Linked DNA regions of Homo sapiens: region 1 is linked to region 2. The links come from fine-mapping of genetic effects on gene expression. A gene starts in region 2. The other region holds a variant in brackets. All regions are shown on one strand. Distances are between the middles of the regions. Region 1 holds the start of SLURP2-AS1 (SLURP2 antisense RNA 1). Region 2 holds the start of THEM6 (thioesterase superfamily member 6).

Region 1 (4,506 bases), 36 kb after region 2:
GTAATTCAGTGGTTTGTCACGCAGCATACAATCCACCCGTTTACAGTGGGTAATTCAGTGGTTTCTCACGCACCATACAATCCACCCGTTTACAGTGGCTAATTCAGTGGTTTCTCACGCACCATACAATCCACCCGTTTACAGTGGGTAATTCAGTGGTTTGTCATGCAGCATACAATCCACCCGTTTACAGTGGGTAATTCAGTGGTTTCTCACGCACCATACAATCCACCCGTTTACAGTGGGTAATTCAGTGGTTTCTCACGCACCATACAATCCACCCGTTTACAGTGGCTAATTCAGTGGTTTCTCACGCACCATACAATCCACCCGTTTACAGTGGGTAATTCAGTGGTTTGTCATGCAGCATACAATCCACCCGTTTACAGTGGGTAATTCAGTGGTTTCTCACGCACCATACAATCCACCCGTTTACAGTGGGTAATTCAGTGGTTTCTCACGCACCATACAATCCACCCGTTTACAGTGGCTAATTCAGTGGTTTCTCACGCACCATACAATCCACCCGTTTACAGTGGCTAATTCAGTGGTTTCTCACACAGCATACAATCCACCCATTTACAGTGGGTAATTCAGTGGTTTCTCACGCACCATACAATCCACCCGTTTACAGTGGGTAACTCAGTGGTTTTTACCATATTCGCAGTTTTAGCCCATTTTCATCATCTTGAAAAGAAACCTTGAACGCTTCAGCGCTATCTTTGCTCCATTCACTGTGAGAACGTGAAGTGGTTATTTTGTGAGATTGTGAGATGGATATTTTGGTTTTCTGACATTGCTTATTTTGTGAGATTGTGAGATGGATATTTTGGTTTCCTGACATACAGCTCTTAAAACCCTTGGAATCTCTGGAGTGGCAAGGGCATCTTTTGTATGCTAATGAGAGGACTGGTGACTGGGGGTCCCCAGGGAGCTTCAGGATGAGGGACAACGGGATTAGAGAGCTGGGACTTCAGCCCCACCCCCAGCCTTCAGGGGAGGGGAGGGGCTGCAGGTTGGGTTGGTCAGTGGCCAGTAGTTTAATCCATCATGCCTACGTAATGAAGCCTCTGTAAATTTCCCAAAAGGACAGGGCTCAGGGAGCCTCCGAGAGCAGAACATGCGCAGGTGTCTGGGGGTGGCACTGGGAGGGCCTGGAAGCTCTGAGCCCCTCCCTGTGCCTGCCCCACGCGTCTCCCCCACCTGCTGTGCGTCCACACCTTCGTCACAGCCTGTGTCATAAATGGGTAAACGCGGCTCAGTGTGTCCCTGAGTTCTATGAGCCGCTCCAGCAAGTCATCAAACCCGAGGAGGGGGTTGTGGGAACCCTGATTCATGGCAGGTTGGTCAGAAGCACGGGCCACACCTGGGGCTTGCGACTGGCATTGGAAGTGGGGCTCACTGCGTGGCACTGAGCCCTCCACCTGCGGGATCTGACGTGACCGCCACAGGAATGGTGTCGGAATTGAATTGAGGACATCCAGTTGGTGTCCACGGCAGTGTGGCTTGGTTGCTGGTGGAGAGAAATACACACACTTTGGTGATGGGGTGAAGTACTGTATTGTGTGAGAGCAGGAAAAGTACTCTGGCTTTTCCCTATTTCTTTTTGTTTGTTTGTTTGTTTGCTTTTTAAGATGGAGTCTCGCTCCTTTGCCCAGGCTGGAGTGCAGTGGCACCATCTTAGCTCACTGCAACCTCCGCCTCCCTGGTTCAAGTGATTCTCGTGCCTCAGCCTCCCAAGTGGCTGGGATTACGGGCATGCGCCACCACACCTGGCTAATTTTTGTATTTTTAGTAGAAACGGAGTCTCACCATGTTGCTCAGGCTGGTCTCAAACTCCTGACCTCAGGTGATCCACCCTCCTCGGCCTCCCAGTGTGCTGGGAATACAGGCGTGAGCCGCCACACCCGGCCTTTCC[G/A]TATTTCTTAATAATCCCTGCCACCACCTAGCAACCACTCATCTCCTTTTCCTCCCTATAGAGCTCCCTATTCCGGCCACTTCTGAGAAATAGAACTGTACACTGCTTGGCCTGTTGTGCGCGGCTTCTGTCTCACTTAGCATCGTGTTTTCAAGCACCCCCCGCGTGTTTTCAAGGCTCTCCCGTGTTTTGGCGTGGGTCGGGGCTTCATTCCTTTATGTGGCTGAATAACATTCTGTGGTGTGGGTCTGTCATCTCTGTGATCCCTCCATCAGTTGATGGGCATTTGGGTTTTTCCCGCCTTTTGTCTGCTATGAATAATGCCACTGTGAATGTTTGTGCACAGGCTTTTGTGTGGACTCGTGTTTACTCTTCTTGGGCCATGCCTGGGCGTGGAATTTGGCCTGGGGGTGGAATTTGGACCAGGTGGGGGGGCGGGGGTGGAATTGCTGTGTTTACAGCAACTCTGTCCAATCCTTTCAGGAACGTGTCTTGCTTTTCTATTCTGAATTATCTAGCATTAAAAAACCTCCTCTTTTTACATCGAAACCTCTCATTCAGTTGGCATGCCTTTGGCTGTAGCGAGAGAGGTGATGATCCAGCCTTATCCTGTTCTCTCCACAGTGCTCCACGGCGGCTGCCAGTGAGCCCTGTCCCTCTCCTGCAGATCTGAGAAGTGCTCCATTGTCACCTCAATTCTTGAGCTTATCTGGGTATCTCCAGCGCACCCTGTTTATGTCTTCTTCTGTGCCCGGGGCTACTCTGAAAGTTGTCCTGCACCTGAGTGTCCGGCGGCCCTGCCTGAGACACCCCCTCCTTGTGGAGCAGCTTAACAATTGCATCAGCTTTCTCCTGTGCTGATTCTTCATGAGAACGTTGCCAAGGTGAGAACAAGAAAGGCCAAGGAAAGGGCCTGGCGGTGTGTTTCTTGGCAGGTGCTAACTCAGTCGGGGGGATCTGGGTGCTGCAGGTATTGACTCACCTCGGCCTCTCCGAGGGGAGTGCCAGGCTTATGTGGGGGTCTCATTCAACCTTGCAGCCCGAAGCTCGGCCATGACGCAATGTTGCCTAGGGAGTGATCAACTTCCACAAACATCACTTACCTAGTTTCCATGTCCACCCTGAGATGGGTGGCCACAGCTGCCCATCACCTCAGTCTGATTCATCCCACTCCCAGCATCTCTCCCCAGCACCCTGCCTTGTGTGCTGGGTACCCAGTGGCCCAGAGGAGCTGGAGGTGGTGTTCCCTGCCAGAACTGGGGGTTTCCTAGAGAGGGGCAGGCCGGGCCACTGGCCCAGGGGCATGTATGAGGGCGAGGGTGAGGATGCCGCCTCACTCTTCTCCCTATTCCAGAAGGCCTGCTGCAGCCGTCTTTGCCAATGGCACCTCCTCCCTTCCTCCACCCCGCACAGCCTCCATGTCTCAGCCGGGGTGTCCTTTTTCTGAGGTTTCCCAACTCACGCTCTGGGGTGGAGGGCTCCTCATGTGCCCCAGCCCCAACTCCCACTCTAGCTGCTTCAGGAGAAGCAGCTGCCCGGGGTGCCTGGGCCCCCGTGCCCTTCAGGCCTGACAGTTGGCTGGAGGCGGGAGGGCCTGTTCCGTGATAAGGGCAAGTGGGGGTGGGGTAGTAGGGTTTAGCCTGGGGTGAGGGAGCGAGGCACCCCCAAATCTACTCCACTCTACTCCCAAGCCCAGGATGGCAGGACTCCACTCTCACTGCATAGCTTGTACCACACGATCCAATCACATTTTATTGTGGGGAGGTCGGGACCTGAAGGGGCGGCAGGCACGATGGGCCCCAGGCTTGGACGGCAGCAGATTGAGGCAAGACTCCACGCAGGACTTCCCTAGGACAAGCGGTGCTGGACGGTGGCTGCAGAGGCCGGGAGAGGTGGGCTGGCCAGTCTCGAGGGAGGGGCAGCTGTGAGCCCTGGCGCCAGGCTGTGGGGGCTGTGGGGGCTGAGCGTCCGGGGGCCTGGAGGAGGGCAGCCGTCAGTCATGGTTGCAGAGGCTGGTCTGGCAGCAAGCGATGGATACGTAGGGGCCCAGGCCCAGGCTGGGGATATCGGGGCAGCCTATGTGGCACATCTTGGTGACCAGAGGCAAATCCTCGGTGTTGCTGAGGACCCCTGAGTGGGCAGGAGAGAAACCATGGAGCTCCCTGAGGCTCTGGTTTGCCCAGACCCTGCTGCCCCATCTGCCACTGAGCTGAGGGTCAGACGCCCCAGGTACATGAAGCATACGGGCCCTCCTGGGGCAGACGTGGCCCTTTGCTCATACCCTTCCCTGGGCATCACTGGCGGACACTCCCCACTATGCTTCTGACTTACTGGGTGCCTGGATCTGGCTCTGTCACCCTCTGAGCCCACATCTTCCCACCTGGGCAAGAAGGACGTGGCCAGCCCACCACTGTTCCCACTTACGGGTGGCAGTGGTGACACAGTGGGTGGAGTCCCTCAGGCATCTGGATCCATGGGAGCACCCTCCGAAGCCCGTGCACTGGTGACACCATATGGCTTCGGCTGCAGCTGCGGACATGGGGACAGACAGGACACAAACGGATGGGAGGCAGGTGTGGGCCACCTTC
Region 2 (4,221 bases):
TTCCTTTCTATTAATGCTAAGTCTTTAAAAAATAACTTTTTTTTTTTTTTTTTTTTTGGAGAAGTGAGGTCTCTCTATGTTGCCCAAGCTGGTATCTAACTCCTGGGCTCAAATGGTCCTCAGCCTCCCCATGGCAAGGATTATAGAAATGGCCCACCATGCCCGGTCAACTTAACTCTTTCAATCAATTGCCAATCAGAAAATCTTTGAATCTGCCTATGACCTAGAAGTCCCTCTGTCACTTCCAGTTGTCCCCACCTTTCTGGACCAAACCAATGTCCATCCTGCAAGTATTCATTGATGTCTTATGTCTCCCTAAAATTTGTAAAACCCAGTTGCAGGCTGACCACTCTGGGTACAAGTTCTCAGGATCTTCTGAGGCCGTGTGACAGGCCACAGTCACTTAGATTTGGCTCAGAATAAATCTCTTCAAACATTGCACAGTGTTTCACTCTTTTTGTTGGCAAGGGGACAACATGGGTGACCAGGAGGCTGCATTCTTTGAGCAATGGCCAACAGGCTCAACGGCTATGTCCTCAGTCCCTTCAGCCCAAAAGGCCACCCCTCCCTGGGGCAGAGGGCTCAGAGCCCAGCTACGACAAGGTGACACTTCAGGGACAAGTGTGAGCAATGCTAGGGTGTTGGGAATAGGCCCCCAAAATCTGGCCATAAACAAAATCTCTGCAGCACTGTAACATGTTCATGATGGCCATGATGCCCACGCTGGGAGGTTGTGGGTTTACCGGAATAAGGGCAAGGAACACCTGGCCCACCCAGGGCAGAAAACCGCTTAAAGGCGTTCTTAAACCACAAACAATAGCATGAGCCATCTGTGACTTAAGGACATGCCCCTGCTGCAGATAACTAGCCAAACCCACCCCTTTATTTTGGCCCATCCCTTTGTTTCCCTAAGGGGTACTTTTAATCTATAATCTGTAGAAACTGTGCTTATCACTGGCTTGCTGTGAATAAACACGTGGGTAAATCTCTGTTGGAGGCTCTCAGCTCTGAAGGCTGTGAGACGCCTGATTTCCCACTCCACACCTCTATATTTCTGTGTGTATCTTTAATTCCTCTAGCACCGCTGGGTTAGGGTCTCCAGGACCGAGCTGGTCTCGGCACTGGGGGAGCTGCCCTGATAGGTAGTGAGCTCCCTGTCCCTGGGGCTATCAAGCAGAGCCAGGTGCCGCCCCAGGGAGCTCCTTCTTTGAGGGCGGTCCAGAACCCTGGAACCCCAGCCCAGGCCCAGGCCTGAATCCGGAGCTTGTTTAACCCAGCAATTCCGGGACCCCATCCCCGGTCGCTGGCATCCGCTGTCATTCGAGAGCCTGGGGCTGACGGGGAGAGCTGGTCCGGCCTTCTCTGGGCCGCCTTTCCTCCCCAGCCTCGTCAGGAAGGGGCACAGGACAGCCGAGCTGTGCGACAGCCCGCTGGGCCTGCGCCCCAGGGCCTCCGGCGACACTTGGAGTCCGCAGCTGAGTCACTGACTCTCACCCGGGCTCCCCCGCTTCCGCCCGGCCGTGATTTGCTCCGGTTTCAAAAGGGAGGAAGGGCGGGAATGCTCGGGAAGAGCCTGGGGTTGGCAGGACCTTTAGGGGGTGGAATGAATGTCGTGAGGGCGAGTAAGGAGGTACCGGCTGGGGCTGAAAATGCGCACGGGGACCATGAGCGTGATTCGCCCTGAGCCGCTGCGAACGCCCTGCGAGCTGGGGTGGCCCTGGAGGTCCTGGAGCAGAAGCTAGGTTCCCGCAGAGTCCGCTGCAGCGCCGCTGGCGATCGGGCTGGGTCCCATTTTCCACGAAAAGTCCCGCGGCTTCGGCCGCGGAGGTGCTGGAGCCTTTGCGCTCAGACGAAGGGCCGAACGGCCAGGGCCAGGCCGCGTCTTCAGAGCCTGGCGAGGGTCTCGCGCTGCTGGGAAGGCGGAGACGCCGGGGCGCGCGTGCACCCTCGCGCCTGCAGCGCCGCGCACGGCCGCCAGGTGCCGCTGTGGCGCTCAGCGCGCCGCCCGCCCCGCCCCAGGGAACGCGAAAGTGGCGCGGGCCTGGACGGCGGGACGGACCACGTAGGGCGCTGAGAAGGTCGCGCCACGGTGGGCGGGGCTCCGGGCCCCTCCCCCTCGGCCGCCCTCGCGCTGTGGTTCGCTCCGGGCGCGCTGCGCTCGTGAGTTCCCAGGAGGCCTGGCGGGCACCGTAACCAGCGCCGCGGACACCGGCACCGGCGCCACGGACTCCGCAGGACCCCGCGCCCGCCGCCGCCGCTATGCTGGGGCTGCTGGTGGCGTTGCTGGCCCTGGGGCTCGCTGTCTTTGCGCTGCTGGACGTCTGGTACCTGGTGCGCCTTCCGTGCGCCGTGCTGCGCGCGCGCCTGCTGCAGCCGCGCGTCCGTGACCTGCTAGCTGAGCAGCGCTTCCCGGGCCGCGTGCTGCCCTCGGACTTGGACCTGCTGCTGCACATGAACAACGCGCGCTACCTGCGCGAGGCCGACTTTGCGCGCGTCGCGCACCTGACCCGCTGCGGGGTGCTCGGGGCGCTGAGGGAGTTGCGGGCGCACACGGTGCTGGCGGCCTCGTGCGCGCGCCACCGCCGCTCGCTGCGCCTGCTGGAGCCCTTCGAGGTGCGCACCCGCCTGCTGGGCTGGGACGACCGCGCGTTCTACCTGGAGGCGCGCTTTGTCAGCCTGCGGGACGGCTTCGTGTGCGCGCTGCTGCGCTTCCGGCAGCACCTGCTGGGCACCTCACCCGAGCGCGTCGTGCAGCACCTGTGCCAGCGCAGGGTGAGCGGCCCCCGCCCCTGGCCCCGGAGCACGGCCTTTGTGGGACCTCCGGGGGCTCCTCCTAGTCCCTGGCCCCCTCCCCTAGGGAAGGCCCGCTGCCTGCACCTCTTTCGGATACTGCTGGAGTCCTGCCTCTTACCGCTCCCGCCCCTCCCTCTCTACCGGGGGCATTCCTCACTGATGCCTTTGTTCGTGGGGGTTCCTAGGGTCCCCGAATCAACTCTTCATAGTCGGGCTTAGCGTGCTTCCCTCCTGCCATTTCTTAACCTGGCCCCTCACGGTTTCGTGTTCACCCCTCTCCTCTCTCCTGGTACTCTGTTCTGTGGCTGGAGTGTTGACCTCTCTGGTCCTTGGTCCTGAATATAGGTTGGAGAGGTGATCAGTTAGAAGAGGTTCCTAGGAGTTCCCGAGGACCTGAGCCCCCCTTTCACACAGCTTAGAGCTGAAGGGCTGGGTTCTGGTCACCTGGGTTTGGGGTTGAGGTATTGAGCCGAGTAGCTGAAAGCCTTCTGGCCTTTCTGCAGTTGGAGAGAGGAGGGCCATGCACCTCCCAGGGCTCGCTCCTCCCAGCAGGGCAGAACCGCCCCTGCAGCATGGCACCTGGGGCCCTGGGGACGGCCACCAGGCCGATGTGGCCAGACCAGTTGCCAGAAAAGTTGCCTGGAGCGTCCGTGCAGGAAGCCAGGGCCTGTGCACCCCTGGTGTGCCCTTAGGGCACTGCCCTCTCCGGTCTCGGACAGGTGCCTCCCGAGCAGACGAGGGTCAACGTCTCATCTCAGTCCTGATGTTACAGGAAAGGGATTCAGATCCAGACCTCAAGGGAGGGTTCTTGGATCTTGTGTAAGAAAGAACTCAGGGCGAGTCTGCAGCGCACAGTGAAAGCAAGTTTATTAAGGTAAAGCGGTGAAAGAATAGCTGGTCCGTAGACCCAGTAGCATGTTCCTGTAAGAGGAGGAACGCGTCCACCCTAGGTGCAATGCTTGTATATATGGGGAGATGTGATCTGCTACAAGGGTTTGTGATAAAGGAGTAATTTTCTTAATTACTATATTTTGCAAGAATCAATATTACTATTTTCTTTTTTTTTTTTTTTTTTTTCAGACGGATTCTCACTCTGTCGCCCAGGCTGGAGTGCAGTGGCGTGATCTCGGCTCACTGCAACCTCCGCCTTCCGGGTTCACGCCATTCTCCTGCTTCAGCCTCCCCACTAGCTGGGACTACGGCGCCAGCCACCACGCCCGGCTAATTTTTTGTATTTTTAGTAGAGACGGGGTTTCAAAATCAGGAATGCCTTTGTTCTCCAGACATCGGGATATCTGGACACTCCCAAGTCTGGGTCTCTTTAGTAAACATTATTAATTTGTTCCCTTAACTGTGTTTGAAACGCTTGTTCCCCGGTGCCGTAAAGAAATAGCACGTGAACATAAATTTAATTTCCTCAGCAAGGCC

What was found. PIP is the estimated chance that this variant, and not a neighbour inherited with it, causes the effect. A credible set is the group of variants that fine-mapping cannot tell apart.
Region 1: its variant is the best candidate, but not a certain one, in a credible set for the expression of THEM6 in whole blood (INTERVAL, PIP 0.88).

What each region holds. Positions count from the first base shown.
Region 1 is chr8:142,760,694-142,765,199 of GRCh38, forward strand. LYNX1-SLURP2 (LYNX1-SLURP2 readthrough) reads right to left here. Exons shown (of 5, transcript NM_023946.5): 4 at 4,343-4,447; 5 at 3,645-4,048. The coding sequence ends at 3,912. SLURP2 (secreted LY6/PLAUR domain containing 2) reads right to left here. Exons shown (of 3, transcript NM_177458.3): 2 at 4,343-4,447; 3 at 3,645-4,048. The coding sequence ends at 3,912. It overlaps SLURP2-AS1 (SLURP2 antisense RNA 1), which reads left to right and starts at 2,372. Exons shown (of 2, transcript XR_007061134.1): 1 at 2,372-2,802. The variant G/A (reference allele first, on the strand shown) is at 1,919.
Region 2 is chr8:142,725,088-142,729,308 of GRCh38, forward strand. It overlaps THEM6 (thioesterase superfamily member 6), which reads left to right and starts at 2,136. Exons shown (of 2, transcript NM_016647.3): 1 at 2,136-2,772. The coding sequence starts at 2,260. LNCOC1 (lncRNA associated with ovarian cancer 1) reads right to left here and starts at 1,886. Exons shown (of 3, transcript NR_038925.1): 1 at 1,635-1,886. RefSeq lists an enhancer at 1,642-1,861 and silencers at 1,892-2,331, 2,632-2,881.